Linked DNA regions of Homo sapiens. The protein of the gene in region 2 purifies or fractionates together with the protein of the main gene of each other region. This does not show direct contact. Each region holds a gene or a part of one and is shown on either strand. Other genes may lie near its edges. The genes, in order: ATXN2, MCRIP2, DDX6 and ATXN2L.

Region 1 (4,632 bases), on a different chromosome or scaffold from region 2:
CCTTTGTCCTCCCCGTTGCAATCTGGGAATACTAACAAATGCTTATGAGTCCATCCATGTCAATAAGCAGCTTTGTACATCTTTGTATCTTTTCAGCCTTCATGCCCTCTGGATTTCTTTATTGCAATTTTTTTCTGAGTGTCTCCTGCCCCCTACTGGTAAAGTAGAAAAATGCCCGAATTGGGAACTTCCAGCTAATGACACTCATTTTGGTTCAGGAGATATTAAAAAGGAAGCTTACAGAATCGGTGTCAGCCCGAGGATGTGGAATTTCAGTGCTGCCCAACTCTGGCCAACCTTCCTCCTCCTGAAGCAGATCTCTAATCCACCAAAGAGAATAGCTCAGTCTTGTCTTTTTCTAGAGATACCTTGAACCAGAACTAAGGGTGAAGAAGAAAAATCATTTCACAGCTACCTTCCGGGATATTCAAAATGCACCCTTAGCACACCTGCTTTGATATTAAGTATCCTACAAAGAAGTAGCTTATACAGACACACACTAACTTGATCAGTTTTTAAAACTTTTTTTATTTTTTAAATTTTTTTTAAGTTTTTATTTTATATTATCTACAAAGTAAAAGTTTTTCCCTTAACTTAAAAGTTGAACCACTGTAGACAGTGATCACCTCATCAAACTTGATTTATAAATAATAATCCGTCAGTTTGACGGTAAGAATTTACTGAAACTTTGTCAAGTTTAGTAAAAGGGCGTTCCAAGTCTTGATTTTTTTTTTTTTTTTTTTTTAGCAGTAATAGCAGCAAGAATCACTCTTGTTACTTCTTTTGCTAGCTGATGTGTTCATGACTTTCAAGGGTTATTAAAAAATAAATAACTTCCAGTTTCGGCAAGCAGAGCTGGGGTACCTGCGGGACTCTGAAACAGCATATGGAATTATGGAATAGCCCCCAAGTTCCTAAATGCCTCTACTCGGTCCAAGTATCTTCCACTGCAAGTGAACTGTTAGCATTCCTATTGGATGTTACAAGAAATCAACATATATATTTTAAAAACAAAATAAATGAAATTCTAGTTTTCTGTGCTTCCAGTTGGTAGAAGCAGTAGAAGGGAGGAGGGAATTTGGCCTTTCGGTTCCTCCAGGGCAGCCTTACAACTGCTGTTGGTGGTGGGCTTGTACTGTAAAAAGAAAAGCGAACATTGAAACAGAAAACTGGCAACACCACACATCAGCCTAGTGTCTCTGCAGCACATGATTGTAAACTATCCTCGTGCTAGCTGAACAAAACTCAAAATTGAATTCGCTTTTCCCCCTCCCATCTGCACCAAAGTGGGGAGGGTTGGGTGGGTGGGTAGAAACAAACCAGTCAGACGTAAAACCACTTCAGATAAAACTCCCAGAAGACTTGTTCATGGGGTAGAAAAAAAGGCCTTAACAAACCCCCTCCCCAAATATTAGCCAAGCACCAGTATTGCTTTCAGAATAACAGGTCAGACTGTGAAGTATCGCCATGGCAGCCATCAAGTAGTAGAGCACAATCACAGGGCGCTCTCCCCTGTTCAGGGGCTGGGGCTAACGCTACACTCAAAGCCAGTCCATCCACAGCGCTTTCTCAGCAGTATCTTCTCCAGAGCTACAATCAAACTCTGCCATGGTAATAACCCCCCACATGTCAGACTTTTGGGACTCAGGAAGGAAAACACTGCCCTGTCCAGCCTGTCATAACAAGGAAGGCCAACTGAGTCCTAGGCATGCATCAGGCTGCTGTTGCTGCTGCTGCTGCTTCTCATCAAGCCAAATCCTGTATACCATCAGAACACACACAGACTCGGCTCCCGGAAGCCTCAGGCCCTGATGCTGAACTGATCGTCACAGTCCCTCCTGTGCACACTCCTGGACGGGTCTTGCTAGTTCTCAAATGCGGGGCTTGAAGCACTGGCCCTGCCTGCCATTCCACCTGTGCGAGCAGAATGCTTTGGGGTGCCCCGGCGGCCCCTGCACACACACGCCTCACCTGAAGGGTGCGTCATATAGGGGAAATGCGCTGTTGTCGAGACTGGAATGGGCTGTAGTGCACTTTGAGCGAGGGCGGCCTGGGGACCGCCGGGTGGCTGTGTCGTCATTAGCATCATTGGCGCATGGGCAGTTGGATGAGAAGGAACCATTCCTGACTGTACATGAGCCTGAAACAGAGAGCTCTTTTACGCATACAGGCAACATCTCCGGCTTCAACAACATGTCAACTGTGTTCCTTTCACTGGGCTGGGACTCTCAGGAAAGGGCAACGGTGGGCCTCAGGGCCCAGTTCTGTTCTCTGGGGACAATCTCTAGTAGATTATCTATTGACCTGAAGACGCGCTTCACCTTTGGGCAGATCCTGCAAGGGTCAGGGAGCAGGCAACAAGTGAGCCTGGGTAGAAGTCAGGGCTGTGCTGTCCTAACCCTTGACATTTCTGATCATTGTATTCTATGTATGGGGTAAGATCTTCACAAAGATTAGACACTGGATCCAAGGGCAGCTTTCTCAACTTAATATCATACAAGATTCAATGATGCTTCAGAATCAGGCTGCCATGTGGGGCCTGAGGTAGTTTTGCAGATAACATCCCTTTCAAATAGGAAAACAGATTACATTAATAAGCAGAGACTGTCACAGTCAAGTATGTGAATTACTTGGACCTCTGTTCATTTGCCTCTCTCCCTCTGCTTCTGGTCTGCTCACCAGGCAGTGAAAAGAGACTCTTAGGCCCCCGTGACTCTCTCAGAGATATGCTGATGGAGCAGGAGGAGGAGGAGGAGTTGGAGTTTTTAATGGCTCCAGTGAGATGGAAAGGAGTAACCTGAAGTCATCTGGGCCAGCCCAGCGTCTCTGTACCAAGTTCAACCTGGTCTCACTCACTGTCAAGTTGGAAAGGTGATTTTAGTCAGCCCAAACAGCTGGATTCCAGCTCTGCAGGGGGTTGGCAGGGCCAGGAAGAGCCCTTGTTTCCTTTTTCCCACACTGTGCACTGTTCTAGACTACGATAAGCCTTGGATGAAATGCCGTTTTTACTCTCACATATTCAAACGGGCACATGGCAAATTTGAGCTTCCCTGTGTTAACCTTTTTGCCCTTTCAGCACAAAAACAGAGTGAGGTTTTAGGGATCCCTGACTTACATGTAAGTTCACATGCCTACTTAGCCACCAGCCTCTGGTAGACACCTACAGGACCCCAGCTCTTATGAAGCTGACTCCACCAAACCACGCTGGCCCACACGGACCAAACCGGCTTCCCTCCCCACTATCAAAAAGCAAATCAACTGCAGTGCGCTACACCACAGAACCTAAACTTTGCAGGGTGAGGACGCCCAAACTTCCCAGAGCTGTGGAACTCTACTTACAAGGTAGCCTTCTGAGAGATAGATCCAACTGAGTCGCATCTCTAGCCCACACCTTGCCAGAGCCTCACTGGCGCACTATTTAACAGGAAATGGAATTCATTGTGGCAGGTCTCACTTAGACCCGCCTCAGAGAGTTCTGTTATGAAAGTAGCAGAGACATCTAATACAGCCAATTCACCCGTAACAGCCCCAGGGAGGGCCTCAAGGCCAGCGTTAGAGCCCAACTTCAGTGCAGCTCCTTCTCCTCATTAAGACAATCCCCTGGGCCCTGGAGTGCAGGGACCTTTGTCAGCAGCTGATGCAGACAGCAACCACTGAGATGGCAAGCACACCTTTCACCTGTAGCAGCTTACACTGGAGGTGAGCTCCAAAGTGCTTCCAGGGCTGCTCTTAAAGAAAAATGGGACCACCTGGGTGCTTCCAGCTTCTAGTTACACTGCACCAATGTCCAAGGCCAAGCCCTCTCAAGAGTACAACTTATGGTCAAAGCAGATATATGGATAACCAGGGAAAACAATTGGAGAGATGTGTCTGGAACTCATGTGAGTAACAATCAAGTTGACAGGCCCCGGTAGTCACTTCGGAGAGCTGAGACTCTGTGAAGGCCATCATCCCTGCCTGGCTTCCAAGGTAAGTGTGTAGGGGAATATATATGTACACATATATATAGTAGTGAGGCTATATAGACATAGCAAAGCAGACACAGAAAGGAAAGAAGGACTGGGTTGCATTCCAGAGTCAAAGATATTTTTAAGGTCTCAGTTGGAAAACTAAAGGACTGACCAATCAGCACCTTCACTGATCCCATGACAAAACCACACAAACATTCCCTTAGGGCCAGATCACGTGTATTTGAGAGGGAAAGGGAGACAGGCAAATGGCATGACACACAGGGTTTCCTAGCTGGGAGAGCCTCTAGCTGCTTACTGATAACCTTCACATTCTACTTGGCCTTCACAGAAAGTTGGCTAAAGCTGGTATTACCTGAGGTACGTGGGCCATGTGGGGTGGGTTGGTATACGCCGGCTGAACGTGAGAAGGATGGATCGTAAAGACAGTCTGTTGTGCTGCTGGGAAACTATTCTGTGGCGACTGCGTGTTGGAGGCAGGTGTCATGGAGGGTGGAGTTGGCGCAAGCCCCGCGTGGTAAATGGCTGACTGCTGCTGTGGACTGGCCAGATGGAGAGCCTGGGCGGCCTGGTGCTGATGGTGCTGCAAAGCGACAGGAAAGAATTGAGAGGAAAACTTCTTTAATGAAAAGCAGCCAAGGGATACCCACAAAGCTAAGCTTTG
Region 2 (6,902 bases):
CCCCAGGAGGAGGGACCTATGATGACCAGTGGTTCTCCTGGGGCCCATGCACCTCTCCTCACCCAGATTTCACCTGGGCTTCCCTAGGCACAGGAAAGAGGAGCCCGAGATCAGTCTCTCTGCGCCTCCCTGCTTCCCCCCTTGAATGGAGCTGCGTTCAGGAGCTGCCTACAGTGCCCAGCGCATGGCAGGTTTAGTGTTGCCTGACTTCAGATATGGCCTATTGTTGGGGCTGGATGTTTGGGCCTCGTGGCTTGACCACCAATGGCTGAAGCAAACGCTAGCTCTGCTGAGCTCTGGGCCAGCCCAGCTTGTCCTTGCCGCCTGCAGTGGGCCCCAAAGGTGGGGGGCCGCCTTCGGGAGCCTGTGTGAGCTCGGGTTATGCCCTTCCCCACATGGGGCTTCCCTCCCCAGCACCGCCCTCACTCTAACTCAGCTGGTCCTTGCTGCCAGGTCTTCCACAGGAGCATATGCCCTCAGGCTGTGCACAGGCCCCCCAGCACCCCGTCCTGCCTCCCTGGCCTGTGTGAGTGATTGCGCTGAAGGCCACTGGGAGAAGCCAGGGCAGGACGCAGGCTGCACAGATGACGGGGATCACACTGGCCTTCCTTGAAGGACACGATGCCCGATGCTGGTGGGGGGAGGGCAGAGCCAGGTGGGGGGAGGGGAACTGGGGGAGTGGGGAAGGTGGGGGCAGGGGTGGGGGTGGGAGGTAGAAAAGAGTCCGTGAGGAGTCCTTCCTAGGGGGCGTCTCAGGCTTGGCCTCCCTGGCTGTGGCTTGCCATCTCCTTTGCCCTCTGAGGGCCACAGGCCTGGCCCAACCCTGCAGAGAAGGCAGCTGGGGATGGAAACCTCTTTCCTTCCGCTCTTCAGCCATGCTGAGGAGGGGTACAGGGCCAAGAGACACCTGGGTCAGAAGCTTCCCTGAGGGCCTCCCAGTAAGTCTGGAGCTCCCAGAAGGGAGGAGAAGCAGGGCCAGTGCATGGGGTGGGGGCTCCTCGGGCTGGCCCCCCACCACCAAGGGCCTCCCCTCACCCCTCCATGTGGTGCATGTTGCTTGCCTGGAAATTTAGACAGGAAGACTCTGGGCCCTGCCGCCCACCCGCCACAGCTCCGTTTTCAGCCACAGCATCCCTGACCTCTCCTTGGAGAATGTGGGGGCCACTGGACACGCCAGGCCCTGATGCCGGCACAGGCAGCCTCCTCTTGTTCCTGGACCAAACTGAGAGTCGGGCTGCTATTTCTCGTGGCCCAGTAACGAGATGCAGATGAACTGGTGAGGAAGAGGGTTTTTATTTCTGCAGCCGGTTACAAGGAGAAGGCCTGGAAATTATCACCAGAACAAGTCAAATTACAAAGTTTTCCAGAGGTTATGTACCTTCCAACCTAGATGTCTGTGTGTAAGTGTGCATTCATCTGAAGACATAAGTGGTTAACTTTTTTCTTTTTTCTTTTTTTTGAGACGGAGTCTTGCTCTGTTGCCCAGGCTGGAGTGCAGTGGCACGATCTTGGGCTCACTATTTTTAGTAGAGACGGGGTTTCCCCGTGTTAGCCAGGATGGTCTCGATTTCCTGACCTCGTGATCCGCCCGCCTCGGCCTCCCAAAGTGCTGGGATTACAGGCGTGAGCCACCGTGCCCGGCCAAGTGATTAACTTCTTTTAATCTATAATTAAGGCCTGAGTCCTGAAGACCTTCCCCTGGAGCCTCAGTAAACTGACTTAATCTTGTTTCCTGCTAAATCATGAAGGTTTGGGGAGTTCCTTCGGGCTCCCAATAAACTTGTCTGTGGAGGCCTGGAGAGTTTCTTCAGACCTCCAATAAACTTGTTTAATCCTAAACGGGTCCTATTAAGAATTCCTTCGTTATCTTGTCGCGCTTCAAGGCCCAGGAGAGGCCTGGGCACAGCTCTTGGTGGGCTTTTGTTACATTCCAGCCTTTGAAGAAGGGCACTGGCTTTTCTTCTTTAGAGTCCTGCTCTGTCGCCCAGGCTGGAGTGCAGTGATGTGATCTCAGCTCACTGCAACCTCCACCTCCTGGGTTCAAGTGATTCTCCTGTCTCAGCCTCCCGAGTAGCTGGGACTACAGGTGTGTGCCACCACACCCGGCATTTTTTTTTTTTTTTTTTTGAGACGGAGTCTCACTCTTTTGCCCAGGCTGGAGTGTAGTGGCACGATCTTGGCTCACTGCAACCTCTGTCTCCCAGGTTCAAGTGATTCTCCTGCCTCAGCCTCTGGAGTAGCTGGGATTATAGGCACCTGCCACCATGCCTGGCTAATTTTTTTTTTTTTTTTTTTTTTGTATTTTTAGTAGAGATGGGGTTTCACTAAATTGGCTGGGCTGGTCTCGAACTCCTGACCTTAGGTCATCCACCTGCCTGGGCCTCCCAAAGTGCTGGGATTACAGGTGTAAACCACCGATCCTGGACAGCTTTTTAAGCTTTTAATATTGAACTAACCACTCTGCACTGAAATAATTGTTATGGAGGCCTGCGTTAGTGAGACCTGGCCTGCCACACTCTCACATCTGTGGGGCGGGTACAGGAGCCCCAGGGGCCGAAGAGGCACACGTCGGGCCTCTGGGTGCACCTCAGCCTGGGGGCCAGGACGTGGGGCAGAGTGCAGCCAGGGTTCTGACTCCTGGGGTGGAAGGGAGACTCCCAGGGCATCATGTCTCTACCCAAGTCCAGGGGGATGAGCCGCTTTTTCTCTTCTTAGACCCAGTCCCAAGACCCAAGCCAAGGGTGACCCTTCACACTGGCCCAGGCCTCTGCAGGCACCTTGGCTGAGGCTCCCCAAGTATGAATGGTAAATCCTTGCCTCCAGCCTCGGCACAGAGGAGCCCAGCACAGACGCCCCCAGCACAGAGTCCCCCAGCACACAGCCCCCAACACAGAGCTCCCCTGCACACAGCCCCCCTGCACAGACACCCCCAGCACAGAGTCCCCCAGTACAGAGCCCCCAGCGCAGATACCCCCCATAGCACAGAGCCCCCAGAACAGAGACCCACAGCACAGAGTAGCCCCCCAGCACAGGGCCCCCCGGCACAGGGATCCCCAAGCACAGGGACCCCCCCAGCACAGGGATCCCCCCAGCACAGGGCCCCTCAGCACAGGGCCCCCCAGCACAGGGACCCCCCCAGCCCAGGGATCCCCCCAGCACAGGGCCCCCCAGCACAGGGCCCCCAGCACAGGGATCCCCCCAGCACAGGGCCCGCAGCACAGGGATCCAGCACAGGGACTCCTCCCCAGTACAGGGATCCCCCCAAGCACAGAGACCTCCAGCACAGGGATCCCCCCAGCACAGGGCCCCCCAATACAGGGATCCCCCCAGCACAGGGATGCCCCCAGCACAGGGCCCGCAGCACAGAGCCCCCCAGCACAGGCACAGGGACCCCCCCCCAGTACAGGGATCCCCCCAGCAGAGAGACCTCCAGCACAGGGATGCCCCCAGCACAGGGCCCCCCAGCACAGGGATCCCCCCAGCACAGGGATGCCCCCGGCACAGGGCCCGCAGCACAGAGCCCCCCAGCACAGGCACAGGGACCCCCCCACAGTACAGGGATCCCGCCAGCACAGAGACCTCCAGCACAGGGATGCCCCCAGCACAGGGACCCCCAGCACAGGTTCTCCTCCAGCGCTTGTCAAAGGTGGGCCCTGGGGCTCCGAGGACCCTGCTCGCACATCGCCGCTGACCCCGCAGGGCCCCTGGGTCCTCGCCGCCAGCAGTCTGAGTGCGGTGCCCCGACACTGACATGGCCTCCAGGCAGCAACGGCCTTCCCGGGCAGCAGGGCGCCTCGTCCGCCTTGGCCTCGGGCCTCCGGGGGCTGGGGCGGGGTTGCTGGCGGCTCCGCCCCCGCCTGCCAGTTTCCCAAAGGGCGCAAGCGCCGCCTCCGCCGCGTGTCCGGGGTCAGCCCGAGCCCGTGCGGGCCCTTTAAGGGCCGGGGGCGTGTAGCGGGCCCGCCCCCTCCCCGCGGCGCCCGCAGTCCGTTAAGTGCGAGCCCCGGCGCAGGGGCCGGATCTGGCCGGGGGCCGGCGGCGGTGTGGGAGCGGCGCGTCATGTACACCATCACCAAGGGGCCCAGCAAGCTGGTCGCGCAGCGCCGCACAGGTGCGCACGGGCCGGGGAACGGGAACGGGGACGGGGCGGGGCGCGGCGGCGGCTGACCGCCCCCCGGTGCCCGCAGGTCCCACGCAGCAGCAGGTGGAGGGCCGGCTCGGCGAGCTCCTGAAATGCCGGCAGCCCGCGCCGCCGACCTCGCAGCCCCCGCGGGCGCAGCCCTTTGCGCAGCCGCCGGGACCCTGGCCCCTGTCGAGGTGAGACGCGCGCGGCCCCGGCCCGGCCCGGCCCGGCTTCCCCTCCCCCGCCGGCCGCCCTAGAGCGGAGGGTGACCTTGGGGAAATGTTAGTGAGGTCCGGCCACGTGCTGCAGGCGGGGCGGGCGCTCCGGGCGCGGGGGGTGCGCGGGTCCTGCCCACTACGCGCCCGCGGGCCTGCGCCTCGCACTTCCGCCTCACCTGGCCGGGCCCGGGCCCCCAGCGGGGAGAAAGCCGGCCAGTTCCTGGGTCGCAGGGGCCTCCAGCGTCCGAGGTCGGTGCTTCGGGCGACCTTGGGTTGCTGCTGGAACCCTGACGTGCAGCAGGCCCAGGCCACGGTTCGCGGAGAGCGTCGGGCGCTGGTCCTCAAGATCTCCCGGCTCTGCCCTTGCAGAGCTCAGTGGGGGAGACGTGCGTGCGCTTCCCTCGGGCAGGGCCGCTGCCCTCCTCCGCCCTTCACCCCAGACACCCTGGGGCAGTGGGGCCTCCCCCCATCCGGTTGCTTCTGCTTTTCCTAACCCAGTTAGGAAACTCCGAGACCACAGGAGCCTCAGTCCGGCCACTGTGGCCTCCCCGTGACCATGACCCAGAGGTTGGACAGCCCCGCAGGGCTGGACGTTTGACTTTGGCTCAGTTCCTCCACCGTTCCCTTCATTTATCCTGTGCCTCTCCCAGGCCTGTGGATTTTGCTGTGGCCCCAAGCCGGCCCGAAGGCTCCTGGAGGTGGTAGGGTCATGGCCTGAGGCGGTGCTGGGGAGGAGAGCTCGGGCCAGGAGTTCAGGGCAGCTACAGGTGGGGGGGTGCCGAGCCACCCTCAGCCTGCCCCCTGCCTACCTCTCAGAAAGGTGTGGAGGTTCCAGCGGGGCGGGGGCTCTCTGGGGCTCCATCCTAGTGAGGTAAGTGCCCTCTACCAGAGGCGCCTTCTGGCGGGAGGTGAGTGGGCCCCTAGGTGCTTCCAGCATCCCAGCTCTGCTGGGACGCTCCGCGGACATCACCCTTGGTCCTCGTGGCCGCTCTACTTCCCAGGGGAGGAAACCGAGGCACACCTGTAGCCACCACCTGGTCCCCAGGCAGGGAGCATGAGGCTGGAGTGGCCCAGGGTGACGCCGTCTCTCTTAACCTGGGGAAACCACCTTTCTTCTCTCTCCAAGACCCCACTGCTAGGGAGGGCAGGGGTAAGGCTGTGGCACAGTTAGGAGGAGTTAGGGAAGAAGATGGAAATGCTTCCCAGAGTTCTCCATGGGACCCCAAGGGTCCCAGTGGGCAACACCAGGCCCACTGGCTGTTGTCTCTTTTTTTTTTTTTTTTTTTTTGGAGACAGAGTCTCCATCTGTCGCCCAGGCTGGAGTGCAGTGGCGCAATCTCAGCTCACTGCAACCTCTGCCTCCCGGGTTCAAGCGATTCTCCTGCCTCAGTCTCTTCAGTAGCTGGGACTACAGGTGCGTGCCACCATGCCCGGCTAATTTTATATTTTTGTATTTCACCATGTTGGCCAGGATGGGCTCGATCTCCTGACCTCATGATCCACCCGCCTCAGCCCCCCAAAGTGCTGGGATTACAAGTGTGAGCTACCGCGCCCGGCCTGTTTTCTTAAAGTCCCCATGTGAGGTCCTCTGTCAGCCAGTGGGACCTGTGGGAGTTGAGTGGGCTTCACCCCGTGTGCAGTGGGGCTAGAGGAGCCCTGGGCAGGGCAGGATGTGTGCTGCCCTCTCCTCCCTGGGGTCACCCACCTTCCCACCCCCAGGCCCCAGCGCTGGGAGCTTCTGGCAGCAGTGGGATCTCTGCATGAAGCCCCCATCCTGCTCCTGCACCTTCTTGGGGCAACCACCTTCCCTCTGTTTCTTTTTTTTTGAAATGGAGTTTTGCTCTGTTGCCCAGGCTGGAGTGCAATGGCAGGATCTCCGCTCACCGCAACCTCTGCCTCCTGGGTTCAAGCGATCCTCCTGCCTCAGCCTCCCGAATAGCTGGGATTACAGGCGTGCACTGCCACACCCAGCTAATCTTGTATTTTTAGTAGAGTCAGGGTTTCTCCATGTTGGTCAGGCTGGTCTCAAACTCCCTACCTCCGGTGATGCGCCCACCTCGGCCTCCCAGAGTGCTGGGATTACAGGCGTGAACCACCGTGCTTGGCCAACCACCTTCCCTCTGAACCACCCCACCCCATGCTGCCACCCACCTCGCTGTTTTTTACTTCATTTAATTTTTTTCTTTTTGAGACAAGGTCTTGCTCTGTCACCCAGGCCGGGGTGCAGTGGTGCAATCATGGCTCACTGCAGCCTCAACCTCCCAGGTTCAAGTGATCCTCCCACCTCTCGACTTCCTGAGTAGCTGGGATGACAGGCGAGCACCACACCTGGCTCATTTTTAACTTTTATGTAGACAGGTCTCACTATGTGGCCCAGGGTAGTATTCAATTCCTGGGCTCGAGCAATTCTCCCGCCTTGGCCTGTGGAAGCGTTGGGGTTATAGGTGTGGGCCACCGCGCCCGGCCCTGCCCTGCCTTTTCTTCTCCTTGGTGCTTTTTGCTACTCCTCATCTCTCACTGACTGGGCGCGGGAGGGGGGTGTCGGGGTCCCTGCACATCTCCTG
Region 3 (7,030 bases), on a different chromosome or scaffold from region 2:
AGTAGCTGAGATTACAGGGCCACCACGCCCAGTTAATTTTTGTATTTTAGTGGAACGGAGTTTCACCGTGTTGGTCAGGTGGTCTTGAACTCCTGACCTCAGGTGATCCACCAGTCTTGGCCTCCCAAAGTGTTGGGATTACAGGCGTGAGCTACCGTGCCCCTCCTACCAGTTCTTTTTTTTTTTTTTAAACTATTAATTAGCTTTACTACTCTGGATTTCTTGGAAAGTTTTCTTAAAATTACTAGTGTGTTTAGTCTTCCGCGGATTTTTTTTTAAACAGGAATTTTCCTGTTTTTTTAAATTTAAAATTAGAATAGTTATTAGCTAAGTTTGTTATAAATGAATAAAATTATTAGAGTCATCTTGGTTTTGTCAATTTCAAAATAAAAATTCATTTATACAAAATTTGTGTATATCATCCGTCCTTGGGATCATTACTTGCTGGATGCATTATGGCAGAAATACACTATTCTCTTGACTGCTTCATTTATTGTTTTAAAGGACAAAAAGGAAAAAAGAAAATACATTTTTCTTCTTAAAGTTTTTTGTTGTTTTTTGAGACAAGGTCTCTGTCACCTGGCTCACTGCAGCCTCCGTCTGCCAGGTTCAAGCGATTCTCGTGCTTCAGCCTCCCAAGTAGCTGGGACTCCATTACAGGTGTGCACCACCATGCCCGGCTAAATTTTGTTTTTTGTTTTTTTTTTCTTGTTTGTTTTTGTTTTTGAGACGGAGTCTGGCTCTGTCGCTGAGGCTGGAGTGCAGTGGCACAATCTTGGCTCACTGCAACCTCCGCCTCCTGGGTTCAAGCAGTTCTCTGCCTCAGCCTCCCAAGTAGCTGGAATTACAGGCGCTCGCCACCACGCCTGGCTAATTTTTGTATTTTTAGTAGAGACAGGGTTTCACCATCTTGGCCAGGCTGATCCTGAACTCCTGACCTCATGATCCACCTTCCTCGGCCTCCTAAAGTGCTGGGATTACAGGCATGAGCCACTGCACCCGGCCTAAATTTTGTATTTTTAGTAGAGATGGGGTTTCGCTATGTTGTCCAGGCTGGTCTCTAACTCCTGACCTCAAGAGATCGCCCGCATTGGCCTCTCAAAGTGCTGCGATTACAGGCCTGAGCCACCAGCACCCAGCCCATAAAGTTTAATAGTTGAAATTTGTAAGGGCACAAAGGTGTTTTTTTCTGGAAGTGTGAAGTTCAAGTCAAAAGCTCACTTAAATCTATAAGGACTCTCGGTTGCTATTACAAGTAGAAGAAAATTAATGAATTGTCTTGTTTAAATTGTGTGATACTTCAGTGAGTTGTAATGCAATTAAGTATAATGAATCACTGACTTTTAGAGATGTCAGAGACTTAGAGAATTCATGGGGAGGAAACTGAAGAGAAGAGATTATCATTGACGAGTAGTGCTAATTTACTAGTCTCTTTCTACTTAATCTCTGGATTGCTTTGAATTAACAATTTTAAATGTTTGATATTGGCCTCATTGTGTTTTTGAGATAGTTCAAAGTTGTGTCTATCCTAGCTTGGCTCGTGATTTGGTCTAAGTGTAGCTGTATTATTAATTCTTTAATATAAAAGATGAGAATTCTTTTAAAGGGGTTCTTTTAAAAGGGAAACAAAGTTTTTCTGTTGTGTTTGCTAATTTAATTTTGTTTGTTTGTTTCAGATTGACGTGAGTGAATTCAGATATAACTCAAGCTTGTTAGAGGGCTTTTTAAAAATAAAAAGTTGATTCCGTGCAAGAGAGCAAGTTACTGCTGCTTACCGTTCAGAGACTTACAGGTGCTTGCCTGCATTGCAATAAAGGACTCATTTATTGAGCAAGACTTATATTTATCTCTTCATTTTGGAGAGCCTAATAAACTGTTATTACAGTTTCTCTACTGACTTTCAAAAGTTTTGAAGTTTGAAAGACCTTTGCAATTAAAACAGCATGAGCACGGCCAGAACAGAGAACCCTGTTATAATGGGTCTGTCCAGTCAAAATGGTCAGCTGAGAGGCCCTGTGAAACCCACTGGTGGCCCTGGAGGAGGGGGCACACAGACACAGCAACAGATGAACCAGCTGAAAAACACCAACACAATCAATAATGGCACTCAGCAGCAAGCACAGAGTATGACCACCACTATTAAGTAAGTGTTAGAGTAAATTATTAATAAACACTTGTGGGGAACCAAGATTTGTGTTACTTTGGTGTTGACTATTAATACTTATGCCTTAATTTAACCATTTTGATTCCAAATAGAGGACAGATGACTTTGTTTTATGGCCAGTAGGTATTTGCAATAGAATAATATATTTCTGCCATAATTTGTTCAGCAAGTAGTCATCCTGAGGTCAGATGATACACACAAATTTTGTATAAATGGTTTTTGGAAACATTTCTGGCTTTCATAATTAGTGTAAAAGTTATTAGCTTAGTTTGTTGTAAATGAATAAAATTATTAGTCATCTCGTTTTTGTCAGTATAGTTTTTTTACGACTGCACCTTACCCTAGTTAAACAGCAGATAAAGCCAACTTTATGTATTAAATTTAAAGACTCAGTCTGAGTCTTTAGAGTCTTTAAAGACTTGCCCAGCCTTCTGAACTCCAAGCATTATTCACTCAGAAAATTTTCTCGTAACTTTTTTTAGCTTATGGAACTTAGCTTTTTTACTTTAAAAAAAAAAAAAAGTTGGCTGGTTGAGGTGACTCATGCCTGTAATCCCTGTACTTTGGGGAGGCCAATGTGGGAGGATCACTTGAGTCCAGGAGTTTGAGACCAGCCTAGGCAACATAATGAGACTCTGTCTCTACCCAAAAAAAAAATTTTTAATTTTTTTCCTCCTTTTACATATAAAAAGGGAACTAAGAATTTTGAACTCACAGAACACAGTTCTGAACAGTCTCAGAAACCTTTTGTTAACCTTAAAATTGAAGAGCCTCCTCTTACTAGAGGATATTTTTTCTTTTAAAGCTGAAAGTATGTAGGCTATTTGTTACTTTTAAGTGCATAGTTTAAATTACAATATTTGAATGGTAACCATCACTTTAAAGATTCAGTTATAGGAAATTAACATTTAAGATTCTTGACTCCAGTTGATGTTTGGCTTTTGTTAAGAACTTGCCATATAGGTCCGGGTGCAGTGGCACACGCCTGTAGTCCAAGCACATTGGGAGGCCAAGGTGGGCGGATCACCTGAGGTCGGGAGTTCGAGACCAGCCTGACAAACATGGAGAAACCTTGTCTCTACTAAAAATAAACCCCGTCTCTACTAAAAGTACAAAATTAGCTGGGCGTGGTGGCACATGCCCATAATGCTACTTGGGAGGCTGAGGCAGGAGAATCACTTAAACCCGGGAGGCGGAGTTGCAGTGAGCCGAGATTGCACCATTGCACTCCAGCTTGGGCAACAAGAGCGAAACTCCATCTCAAAAAAAAAAAAGGCCAGGTGCGGTAGCTCACGCCTTTAATCCCAGCACTTTGGGAGGCTGAGGCAGGTAGATCACGAGGTCAAAAGTTTGAGGCCAGCCTGACCAACATGGTGAAACCCTGTCTTTACTAAAAATACAAAAATCAGCTGGGTGTGATGGCATGCGCCTGTAATCCCAGCTACTCAGGAGGCTGAGGCGGGAGAATCACTTGAACCCGAGAGGTGGAGGTTGCAGAGAGCCAAGATCGTGTCACTGCACTCCAGCCTGGGCAACAGAGAAATACTCCATCTCAAAAAAAAAAAAAAACTTGCCATATAAAATAATTTAACCCTGGGAATCTTTATAAGATGTTGACACTGGGTTACTGAACTGAGGTATATGTTTTATTACAACCTAGATCTTTTCACTTCCTACAGAAAAATAGCTTATACAAGCTACCAGACTGTCATATAGTTACCGTATGTGGTTCACTAGGACCTCTAAGAACTAATTTTCAGCAGAATTGGTTAGGTCATTGGGAGAATTGGTATTAGTGTATATTCTGTTATTTTTAAGGTGAATGCTTTAATTGGTATAGAAATGAATACTACTTCAGTTGTAGTTTGTCTTGGCAGAATGTAAGTAGGTTAGCAAAATTTAGACTATTTTTAATTTTTTTTATAACTTTTTTTTTTTTTTTTGAGACAGGGTCTCACTTTGTTGCCTAGGCTGGAGTATGGTGGCACGATCATGGCTCACTGCAGCCTCAACTTCCCAGGCTCAAGTGATCCTCCTGCCTCAGCCCTACAAATAGTGGGGACTACTGGCATGCACCAGTAGCGACGGCGTTTTGTCATGTTGCCCAGGCTGGTCTGGAACTCCTGAGCTCAAGTGATCTGCCCACCTCGACCTCTCACAGTGCTGGGATTACACATGTGAGCCACTGCGCCCAGCCTATTTTTAATTTTTTTTTTTTTTGAGATGGACTCTCACTCACTCTGTTGCCCAGGCTAGAGTGCAATGGTGTGATCTCGACTCACTGCAACCTGCACCTCCTGGGTTCAGTTCAAGCCATTCTCCTGCCTCTGCCTCCCAAGTAGCTGGGATTACAGGTGTCCACCATCACGTCTGGCTAATTTTTGTATTTTTAGTAGAGATGAGATTTCATCATGTTTGCAGGCTAGGCTTGAATTCCTGACCTCAGGTGATCTGCCTGCCTCGGCCTCCCAGAGTGCTGGGATTACAGGCGTGAGCCACTGCACCTGGCCTATGAGAATATTTTCTATTTAAAAAATTCTGGGGCTGGATATGATGGCTCATGCCGTTCATCCCATCACTTTGGGAGGCTGAGGTGGGAAGATCACTTGAGGCCAGGAGTTTGAGACTAACCTGGGCAACATAGCAAGACCCTGTCTCTACAAATAATAAAGGCTGCAGTGAGCTATGATCGCACCACTGCACTCAAGCCTGGGTGACAGGGTAAGACCCCATCTCAAAGAAATAAAAAATAAATTCTGATTTGGGGACAACAGTGGATTTTGATTTTTCTTTTCTGGTTTTCCTACGATTAATGGTTTCTTTTCAGTTCTGCGGTTCTTCAAATCTCATTTTCTCTGCCCTCTCTTCCATGAAGTCCTCTAGATCCCATCAAGTGTCTCAGAACACTTCTAATACTTAACCTCCGTCACTTACTTTCTCATTTTAAATAGTTTTTTCATCTCATAAGATTATAAATTTCTTGTGGTCAGGTTTTGCATTGTATCTTACGCATTATTATTCACTATTTTGTTGAATTCAACGGTATGTCAAACTGACATCAGAAACTTCGATGATACAGGCTTAGATGAAAGGCTTTAGTAGGCCGGGTGAGGTGGCTCACGCCTGTAATCCCAGCACTTTGGGAGGCCAAGGCAGGAGGATCACGAGGTCAGGAGTTTGAGACCAGCTGAATCCCCGTCTCTACTAAAAATACAAAAACTAGCCAGGTGTAGTGGCAAGCTCCTGTAATCCCAGCTGCTCTGGAGGCTGAGGCAGGAGAATTGCTTGAACCCCGGGAGGTGGAGGTTGCAGTAAGCCGAGATCATGCCACTGCACTCTAGCCTGGGTGACATAGCAAGACTCCATCTCAGAAAAAAAAAAAAAAGGCTTTAGTACAGTAGTAGTCTTGGAATTGGTAGCAAAAAGTTACCAATGTTAGAGTATGCATTATGTAGGACCTAGTTTTAAGTAAAATAAGTGGTCTTTTTGTCTGTGAATGGAGCATTTGAGATGTTTTGGGGACTCTGGTTATGTAAGAACAGCTGCAGTGAAAACTTTTTCGAAGATGTCACAGTTAAATACTTTGTCTGCAGATGTTCCCTGATCTTTTTTTTTTTTTTAAAGATGCTTTGAGTATTTATTACTTGAGGTTTTTACCTGGCCAAAAAGAGAGTTTATTTATATTCTCCTTGTTTTTATTCTCTTTCATGATTTCTAGCATTTCCAATAAAAAAGAAAGATTAAGAGATGCTCATTGGCTAATACTGTGCTATTATTTTGCCAGGCACTGTGCTGAGTGCATTATATCAATTGTTTGATGTAACTGTTAACCTATTTTGTTTTATTTATTTATTTGGAACGGAGCCTTGCTCTGGCGCAGGATCTTGGCTCCCGGGTTCAAGCAATTCTCCTGCCTCAGCCTCTTGAGTAGCTGGGATTACAGGCACATGCCACCATGGCTGGCTAATTTTTGTATTTTTGGTAGAGAGTGGGTTTCACCGTATTGGCCAGGCTACTCTCGAACTCCTGACCTCAGGTGATCCGCTTGCCTTGGCCTCCCAAAGTGTTGGGATTACAGGTGTGCGCCCACCTTATTTATTTTTGAGACAGAGTCTCCCTCTGTCACTCAGGCTGGAGTGCAGTGTCGTGAGCTTGGCTCACTGCAGTGTCCGCCTCCCAGGTTCAAGTGATTCCCCTGCCTCAGCCTCCCGAGTAGCTGGGACTACAGTTGTGTCCCACCATGCCTGGCTAATTTTTGTATTTTCAGTAGAGGTGGGGTTTCACCATATTGGCCAGGCTGGTCTCGAACTCCTGACCTCAAGTGATCCGCCCACCTTGGCCTCCCAAAGTGCTGGGATTACTGATGGGAGCCACCACGCCTGGCCTGTTAACCTATTTTAAAAATGAGAATAGCCGGCCATGGTGGCTCACACCTATAATCCTATCACTTTGGGAGGCCGAGGCAGGTGGATTTCTTGAGCCCAGGAGTTATATAAGATATATAAAATCTTACAGTTTTTAAATGTTGAGAACTAATTTAAACTCATTTAAATTAAAACACATGCTGTGTAGGTCAAACAAAACACCTTTTGACAACAGTTACACTGTATACAATATTGCTTAAGAGGATGGATGCCTTAATCCCTTCTGTTCTTGATTTTTTTATCCTCCTGAGATTCTCTATAAGAACACTTTTTCTAAAGTTGTTTAATTATCTTGTTAGATATATTAAATGGAATATATTAAACTTACTGTGCTTTTTTAACACTTAATTATAATTGAGATGAATCATCTTTGTTAGGATGCTATGAATTTTGATACTTCAAGTTTACTGTATTCTCTCTAGACCTGGTGATGACTGGAAAA
Region 4 (7,643 bases), about 28 Mb from region 2:
CGCCTGTAATCCCAGCACTTTGGGAGGCCAAGGAGGGTGGATCACCTGAGGTCAGGAGTTCAAGACCAGCCTGACTAACATGGAGAAACCCCCTCTCTACTAAAAATACAAAATTAGCCAGGCGTGGTGGCACACGCCTGTAATCCCAGCTACTCGGGAGGCTGAGGCAGGAGAATCACTTGAACCCAGGAGGCGGAGGTTGCAGTGAGCTGGGATCTCACCACTGCACTGCAGCCTGGGTGACAAGAGGGAGGGAGACTCTGTCTCAAAAAACAAAAAACAAAACAAAACAAAAAAACACCCTGGCCGGACATGGTGGCTCACATCTGTGATCCCAACACTTTGGGAGGCAGAGGCAGGTGGATAGCTTGAGGCCAGCAGTTCAAGACCAGCATGGGCAACACAGCAAAACCCCATCTTTACCAAAAGAAAAAAAAACCAAGAAACAAAAAATTAGCTGGGCGTGGTGGTGCACACCTATAGTTCCAGCCACAACTACTTGGGAGACTGAGGTGGGAGGATCTCTTGAGCCTGGGAGGTGGAGGCTGCATTGAGCCAAGACCCCACTGCTGCACTCCAGCCTGGGTGACAAGAGCGAGACCCTGTCTCAACAACCACAAAAAAGAATACATCCTTCCATATCTCCAGTAGAGTCATAACACATTCAGGAAATTTATCATGGATGCAATACTTTGTAGTCTATATTCCAAATTTATCAATTTTCCCCATACTGTCTGTTTTGTTTTTATTTTGAGATAGGGTCTCGCTCTGTCGCTCAGGCTGGAGTGCAGTGGCGAGATCACGGCTCACTGCAGCCAGGACCTCCTGAGCTCAAGCAATCCTCATTTTCCCCCATCCCCCCATCACAGGTAATCAATTTGATGAGTTTCTGGTTTATACTTTGTTTTTCTTGGCAAAAACCTGCAGATACATTTATGTCTTCATATTTCCCCTTCTTCCTTATACAAAAGGTAGCACAGTATACAAAAGGTAGCACAGTCTTTTGAAGTTTGCTTTCTTTTTCTTTTCTTTTTTTTTTTTTTTTTTTTTTTATGAGATGGAGTCTGGCTCTGTCATCCAGGCTGGAGTGCAGTGGCATGATCTTGGCTCACTGCAACCTCCACCTCCCGGGTTCAAGCGATTCTTCTGCCTCAGGCTCCCGAGTAGCTGGGACTACAGGCGTGAGCCACCACACCCAGCTAATTTTTGTATTATTAGTAGAGACGGGGTTTCACCATATTGGCCAGGCTGGTCTCGAACTCCTGACCTCACGATCCAACCACCTCGGCCTCCCAAAGTGCTGGGATTACAGGCGTGAGCCACTGAGCCTGGCCATAGTGATATAATTTTTAAATTGCACACGATAAGACAACATTCCCATTGTTGGGGCAGGAGTGCTGCCCCAACCCCACCACCAGGAATGTTAGGCAACCATCAGGTGATGGTCAGGTGGTTGTTAAACTTGTCTCTAAAATAGTAATTGGTTGCAGCCAGCACCAGGGAAAGGCAGTCTCCAAATAGATGGAAAACACTTGAAACTGATGATCAGCAGCTTCTCGATAAGATCTCAGAAGTTGGGTAAATGGGCTCAAGCTTATGCACCAAGAGGCAAAATGGCGGAGTTTAATGGTACATGCCCTTCCTCCAGGAATGCTAGATCTGTAAGGGAAGAACGTCTTAAGTGAGCATGTGCACTTCAGTATACTGAACACACTGTGCTTGTGGCCCCTCCAAGTGCTGGCAGGCCACCGTGCATGTGGACAGCCCATGCCAAGGTAGGAATCAGGGGAGAAGAGATGCAAACCGTAAATCCCTGGAAGCATGCCAGCATATGAAACCCCAAGTCAAAGGTCAAACCAGGGACTTGAATCTGTCAAGTCATTCACGCCTGGCCCTCTTCCAAGTGTACTTTACTTCCTTTCATTCCTGCTCTAAAACTTTTTAATAAACGTTCACTCCTGCTCTAAAACTTGCCTCTGTCTCTCCCTCTGCCTTATGCCCCTTGGTGGAATTCTTTCTTCTGAGGAGGCAAGAATTGAGGTTGCTGTAGACCCCATGCAAATTAGCTGCCACTAGCAAGGGCAAGGCAAGCTATGGAGAAAGAAGTTTCATGGGGCTAAAACTCAGAATTTGAGTGTGGAGCAGGATGGGGTAGATGGAAGGGGGTTAGAGTGCTCAGTGCTCACAATCTGTCAATGAGGGTAGAGAGGTGGCATGGCATCAGGTGGTCCAGGTAATGCCAGGAAAAAGCTGGACTGTGTTTGTTAGGGAACCCAGGAGACATGATGACCTTTAAAACACCATTTGGGCTGGGCGTGGTGGCTCATGCCTGTAATCCCAGCACTTTCGGAGGTCGAGGCGGGTGGATCACCTGAGGTCGGGAGTTCAAGATCAGCCTGACCAACATGGAGAAACCCCGTCTCCACTAAAAATACAAAATTAGCCGGGTGTGGTGGTGCATGACTGTAATCCCAGGTACTCAAGAGGCTGAGGCAGGAGAAACGCTTGAACCCGGGAGGCGGAGGTTGTGGTGAGCCGAGATCGCGCCATTGCACTCCAGCCTGGGCAATAAGAACAAAACTCCATCTCAAAAACAAACAAAAAAACATCATTTGGATCCACTCACCTTACAGATATTTCATTGAGTGCCTGCAGTGTGCTAGAGTACTGCAGAGCAAGAAATAAGTCAAGATCCTAACCCTTAGGGAGCTGACATTAGCAGGAAGACAGAATTAAAGGAGCTGTTAGAATACAGTGGGATAAATTGCTCGGCGAGCACACAGGAGGGGAAACTAGCACATCTGAAGGCAGGAGCGAGGCAGGGCGAAGGACTATTACCCAAAAAGTAAGGCAGTGTTGTAGCTAGGTGTGCATGTGTTTGGTGCAGGGGCTGGGAAGAGTTCCAATGCTAACATTTAGAGCGAAGAGATTGAGACATTGAGAGTTTCGCTGGGATTAAGACCACATGGACTTAACAGCTCCACTCCATTCTCCACGTTGCAAAGAGTAAACCTTTAAAAATGCAAATCTGACCTCTTTTCACTTGTTTTTTTGTTTGTTTTGGGGGGAAGGAGTCTTGCTCTGTCACCCAGGCTGGAGTGCAGTGGTGCGATCTGGGCTCACGGCAACCTCCGCCTCCTTGGTTCAAGTGATTCTCCTGCCTCAGCCTCCTGAGTAGCTGGGATTACAGGCATGCACCACCACGCCTAGCTAATTTTTGCATTTTTAGTAGAGACAGGGTTTCACCATGTTGGCCAGGCTGATCTCAAACTCCTGACCTCAAACCTCCCAAAGTACTGGGATTACAGACCATGCCCAGCCTCTTTTCACTTTCTTAAATAAGCTCCCCACTGCTTTGAGGATAATGTCCGTGTCTCTTACAAGACTTGGGAGCCTTTAAAACCTGATCCCAGATTAGCTACCTCTTCCCCCCTTTAATTTTATGCTTAGGACAAGCTGAGTTTTTCTTAGTTTGTCATATCCTATTTCCCTGCCTAGAAACCCATCTCCCCCTGCCCTCTTATCAGTTTTTTTTTATAATTTAAATTTTTTTTTTTTTGTAGAGACAAAGTCTCACTTTGTTGCCTAGGCTGGTCTCAAACTCCTGGCCTTAAACGATCCTTCTGCCTCGGACTCCCAAAATGTTAGGATTACAGGTATGAGCCACTGCGCCCGGCCCTCCTGTCCCTTATCTGGGTCTCCCAAAACTGGATTAAGATTAGGTGTCACTCCCATTTGCTCTTGTAGTCCTCTGTGCTTCACCTACTAGATCTCGTCAAATTCTCTGAATTCACCACTAGCATGAACTCCTCCAGAGCAGGAAGCAGTTTAATTATCCTTGTGTCCAAAACAACTAACTGAATACTCCAATGCCCAACTCATTTTGAATGAATGAAGCTGCCTTCATTGCAGGGTCGGGTGGAGGATTTTGAACTCGGAACTTTGGCCTTCAGTCTTTGTTATTACAGTTTAAAGATTCATTCTCGGGCATGGAGGAACAATTTAGGTCAAAATCACAAAAATCTGAAATAATTTAGGACGAGGCGTAAATTTATCTGCAAAGATCAACACGCTCAAACGAATCACTAATGCTCATCAGTCTTTTACTTAAAGCAAACAAGGTGGAGGGTAGCTCCTTGCGAAACCTACCACCTGCCTAAAAGCGCAGTGGCTCGGGTGGTCCAGTCCCGGAGACTTTCTTGGCACTTAAGGCTCTGCCCACGGGCCGCCAAGTGGCGGAAGAGCCTCACGCACGACGTGCCGCCTCACACTCCCGCGGAGGCATCGCGACGCAGCGACGGCGTGGGCGGAGAGGCCGGCCCTTCCTCTGGCGCCTTCGGCTCCTCCCCCTGCGCCTCACACGCTCATTGTGAAGCGACAGCGGCCGCCGGCTTCTAAGGCGGTTTGAGACCTTAAGACCCTAAATCCTTGGCGCGCGTGAGCGCCCGCGCCGCTCCTTACCCACTCCCAGGGCTAGGGGTGCGAGGTTCACCGACTTGATTCTCTCCCACTTTCCCGCCGGGAGCTAACCGCGCCGGTGTGCGCGGCACCTCGCGCCACTGCTCGCTCCTGGCCCCCCCCCCCCCCCCCCCCCCCCGGGAGCTCCCACCCGCGCGCTCCTCCCTCTCCGCTCCCCGGCGACGCGCACGCGCGCCAGCCCGGCTCGCGCCCTCTCGCTTTCCTCCAGCCGCGAGACCCCCTCCCCTTCCGCCTCGCGGCGCTTCCTCGCGCCGCGGTCTTCTCTCTCCACCCCCGACACCGCGGGGCTCCCCCCGCCCGCCCACGGCGGGCCCCGGCTGCCCGATCCCCCTCGCTTCCCGCGCTCTCCAGCGGGGCCCCAGCCCCGGCCCCCTCTCTCCCTCCCTTCTCTCTAATTCCCCTTCCGGACGCTGCCATCATGTTGAAGCCTCAGCCGCTACAACAGCCCTCCCAGCCCCAGCAGCCGCCCCCCACGCAACAGGCCGTGGCCCGTCGGCCCCCCGGGGGCACCAGCCCTCCCAACGGCGGCCTCCCGGGGCCGCTGGCCACCTCTGCGGCTCCTCCCGGGCCTCCAGCGGCCGCCTCCCCCTGCCTGGGGCCTGTGGCCGCTGCCGGGAGCGGGCTCCGCCGGGGAGCCGAAGGCATCTTGGCGCCGCAGCCGCCGCCGCCGCAGCAACACCAGGAGAGGCCGGGGGCAGCCGCCATCGGCAGCGCCAGGTGAGAAGGGTGGGCTCCGGGCGAGGGAGCCGCGGCCACCCAGAGGCTGTGGCTCGGTTCCGGTGGGGCGGACCCCGACCCGGCACCGTCAGGGGCACCGGCTGGGTGGGGAGTCCCCGTGAAGCTGGGGGAGGGCCCCCTCAGGTCCGAACAGGTCGGACGGAAAGGGTCCCCGGGCGGCCACCGGAGCACTGAGGGGCCGCGCTCGGCTCTCGGGGCCTAGTCAGGGCTCGCAGCCCCGGCCTTCAGGGGAGGCGGGGCGCATCCCGCCGGCGCCGTCGGAACGGGGAGTTGGGGGGGGGCAAGGAGCTGATCGGGGTCCCCGGTTCCATTACCACGAAGGGTCTCGCGGTCCCCGGCTTCAGCCAATGGGGAGTCTGCTGCGGGAAGGGGTCCCCGGCCGTAGCCAATGGAGGGGGGCGCGCGGCCCACAGTTTGGCCAATGGGGAGGGAGGGACTTGGGAGCGGGTTGCTGCCTCCCCCTTCCCGGTCTGGCCAGTAGGAGGGGAGCGAGGTGGGCGGGGGGACGGAAGGAGGGATGACTGGGAGGACTGCGGGCCGGGAGCCTCTGGCGCGCGCGCCCCCTTCCCGTACGTGCGCGTGGATGCTCGGTCTCATGACCCGGGCATTCGCGCGCCCCGGGAACACCTAGGGCAGGGACTAGTTCGTGGAGGGGCTCGTCTGGTGGCAGTGCATGAGTAGTGGAGGCCCTGCTCAGTTTTTCCTGTGCGAGTGTGTGTGTGTTAATGGAATTAAGAGTGGCAGCACACGCAGGCGCAGTGGGCTCTGATCGCTGGAGGTGGGGGTTCGGAAAGTCCCGTGGGTTTTAGTGCGCAGGCGCAGACCGGGCGAGGCCTCCCGGTGGATGGCTTTTGCGGCTGCGCTGTCCCCCAGCCCCGCCAGCGGCCCCCTCTTCGCCCTCAACCGCCGGTTACATCAGCCAGCGACGAGCAGGGTTACCTGGCGATTGGTGATCCCCGCAGAGTGGGTAACGGGCTGAATGAGTCATGAGGTCGAGGGGATGGGGTGTGGAGGGGATACCCCTCCTCCCACAGTTTTGAGGCGTCAGGCTGCTGAAAATGATTGTCTTTTCTGTTTGGGAGGTAATGTACCTGAGCTAGGTAGTTCCAAAGCTGCACTCCTGGAGCTTTTGCCCTCACAGCTGGCGTGGCTTTTTGGTTAATACTGTAGCATTGATCTGTTGGTAGCCTGCAGCCCTAGCCCCTTTCTCGTTGGTTCTTAGAGCAATTGACAACCATTGTTGATTGAGATCTTTTTGCTGGCATTTGGAGGAAATGTGTTTGCTGGCTTATTAATGTCTATTTTTTTCTTCCTCTACAAGGTGACAGTTTGAAAATCTTATTTATTGGCCGGGCGCAGTGGCTCACGCCTGTAATGCCAGCACTTTAGGAGGCAAAGGTGGGAGGATCCCTTGAGCCCAAGGAGATCGATACCAGCCTGGGCAACACAGATGGGAAATCCCATCTCTACTAAAAATTAAAAAAAAAAAAAGCCAGGAGTGGTGGTTCGTACCTATAGTCTCAGCCACTCGGGAGGCTGAGGCAGGAAGATCACTTGAGCCTTGGAGGTTGAGGCTACAGTGAACTGAGATCACGCCACTGCACCCCAGCCTGGGCAACAGAGGGAGACCCTGTCTCAAAAAAAATAGAAAAATCTTACTGATTAACAATTTTGTAGTCTAAATCAGCATCATCAGGTGGTATATACTTCTAGGATTTAACATTAATTTCATAGTGGTCTAAGAGGGCTTGAACAGACTTAAGTAATTTCTTGTTTTCTTTTATAGGGGACAGAGCACAGGAAAGGGACCCCCACAGTCACCTGTGAGTGTCTTCTCCCACCCTGTTTAAGATACATAGACCTAAAAGATGCATAATGTGGGAATATAGGGCACATTAGGTCTAGATAGAGTCTAATGTACTCAGGAGGGCTGTGGGCCCGGCACACACAAGGCAGAATGAGTAGAGTGCGGCGGGCATTTAGAAAAGAAAATGAGGTGTTGACTGATTACTCCTTTAATTCTCCCTCTTATGTTAACTGACAGGTGTTTGAAGGCGTCTACAACAATTCCAGAATGCTGCATTTCCTTACAGCTGTTGTGGTAAGTTGGTACTTAACCCCCGGGTTGTTTAAGGAACGTAATGCATCTACTTTCTGGAGACACTCTTCTTATTTTTCCCACTCTGCCAGGGCTCCACTTGTGATGTAAAGGTGAAAAATGGTACCACTTATGAGGGTATCTTCAAGACGCTAAGCTCAAAGGTCAGTGTACTCAAATTTAATTATTTTTGGAGTTGCAGAGTAGGAGGAGAATGAAATAGGCTCATTGAAGGTGTCAATTGGGTGATGTCAGAGTATGCCTTTAGTTGTTTCTGTAGGCCTGTGCTGAATAGTGCTGCAGGGAAAAAAGACAAATTTGAGGGCTG

What was found.
Region 1: the proteins of MCRIP2 (region 2) and ATXN2 purify together in Homo sapiens (co-immunoprecipitation; 3 studies listed by BioGRID and IntAct, with this or other methods). This does not show direct contact.
Region 3: the proteins of MCRIP2 (region 2) and DDX6 purify together in Homo sapiens (co-immunoprecipitation; 5 studies listed by BioGRID and IntAct, with this or other methods). This does not show direct contact.
Region 4: the proteins of MCRIP2 (region 2) and ATXN2L purify together in Homo sapiens (co-immunoprecipitation; 2 studies listed by BioGRID and IntAct, with this or other methods). This does not show direct contact.

Annotation. Positions count from the first base shown.
Region 1 is NC_000012.12:111,451,706-111,456,337, forward strand, and holds the end of ATXN2 (ataxin-2), read right to left. Parts: intron 4,552-4,632; coding exon 4,324-4,551; intron 3,415-4,323; coding exon of another isoform or gene 3,340-3,414; intron 2,141-3,339; coding exon 1,972-2,140; intron 1,136-1,971; coding exon 1,107-1,135; 3' UTR 509-1,106; downstream 1-508. UniProt on the Homo sapiens protein: Involved in EGFR trafficking, acting as negative regulator of endocytic EGFR internalization at the plasma membrane.
Region 2 is NC_000016.10:637,936-644,837, forward strand, and holds the start of MCRIP2 (MAPK regulated corepressor interacting protein 2), read left to right. Parts: upstream 1-3,892; 5' UTR 3,893-4,056; coding exon 4,057-4,108; intron 4,109-4,184; coding exon 4,185-4,314; intron 4,315-4,318; exon of another isoform or gene 4,319-4,410; intron 4,411-5,118; exon of another isoform or gene 5,119-5,209; intron 5,210-6,902.
Region 3 is NC_000011.10:118,781,165-118,788,194, reverse strand, and holds part of DDX6 (probable ATP-dependent RNA helicase DDX6), read left to right. Parts: intron 1-1,676; 5' UTR 1,677-1,943; coding exon 1,944-2,143; intron 2,144-7,010; coding exon 7,011-7,030.
Region 4 is NC_000016.10:28,818,363-28,826,005, forward strand, and holds the start of ATXN2L (ataxin-2-like protein), read left to right. Parts: upstream 1-4,636; 5' UTR 4,637-4,897; coding exon 4,898-5,196; intron 5,197-5,531; exon of another isoform or gene 5,532-5,680; intron 5,681-5,762; exon of another isoform or gene 5,763-6,061; coding exon of another isoform or gene 6,062-6,180; intron 6,181-7,003; coding exon 7,004-7,040; intron 7,041-7,261; coding exon 7,262-7,318; intron 7,319-7,407; coding exon 7,408-7,479; intron 7,480-7,643. UniProt on the Homo sapiens protein: Involved in the regulation of stress granule and P-body formation.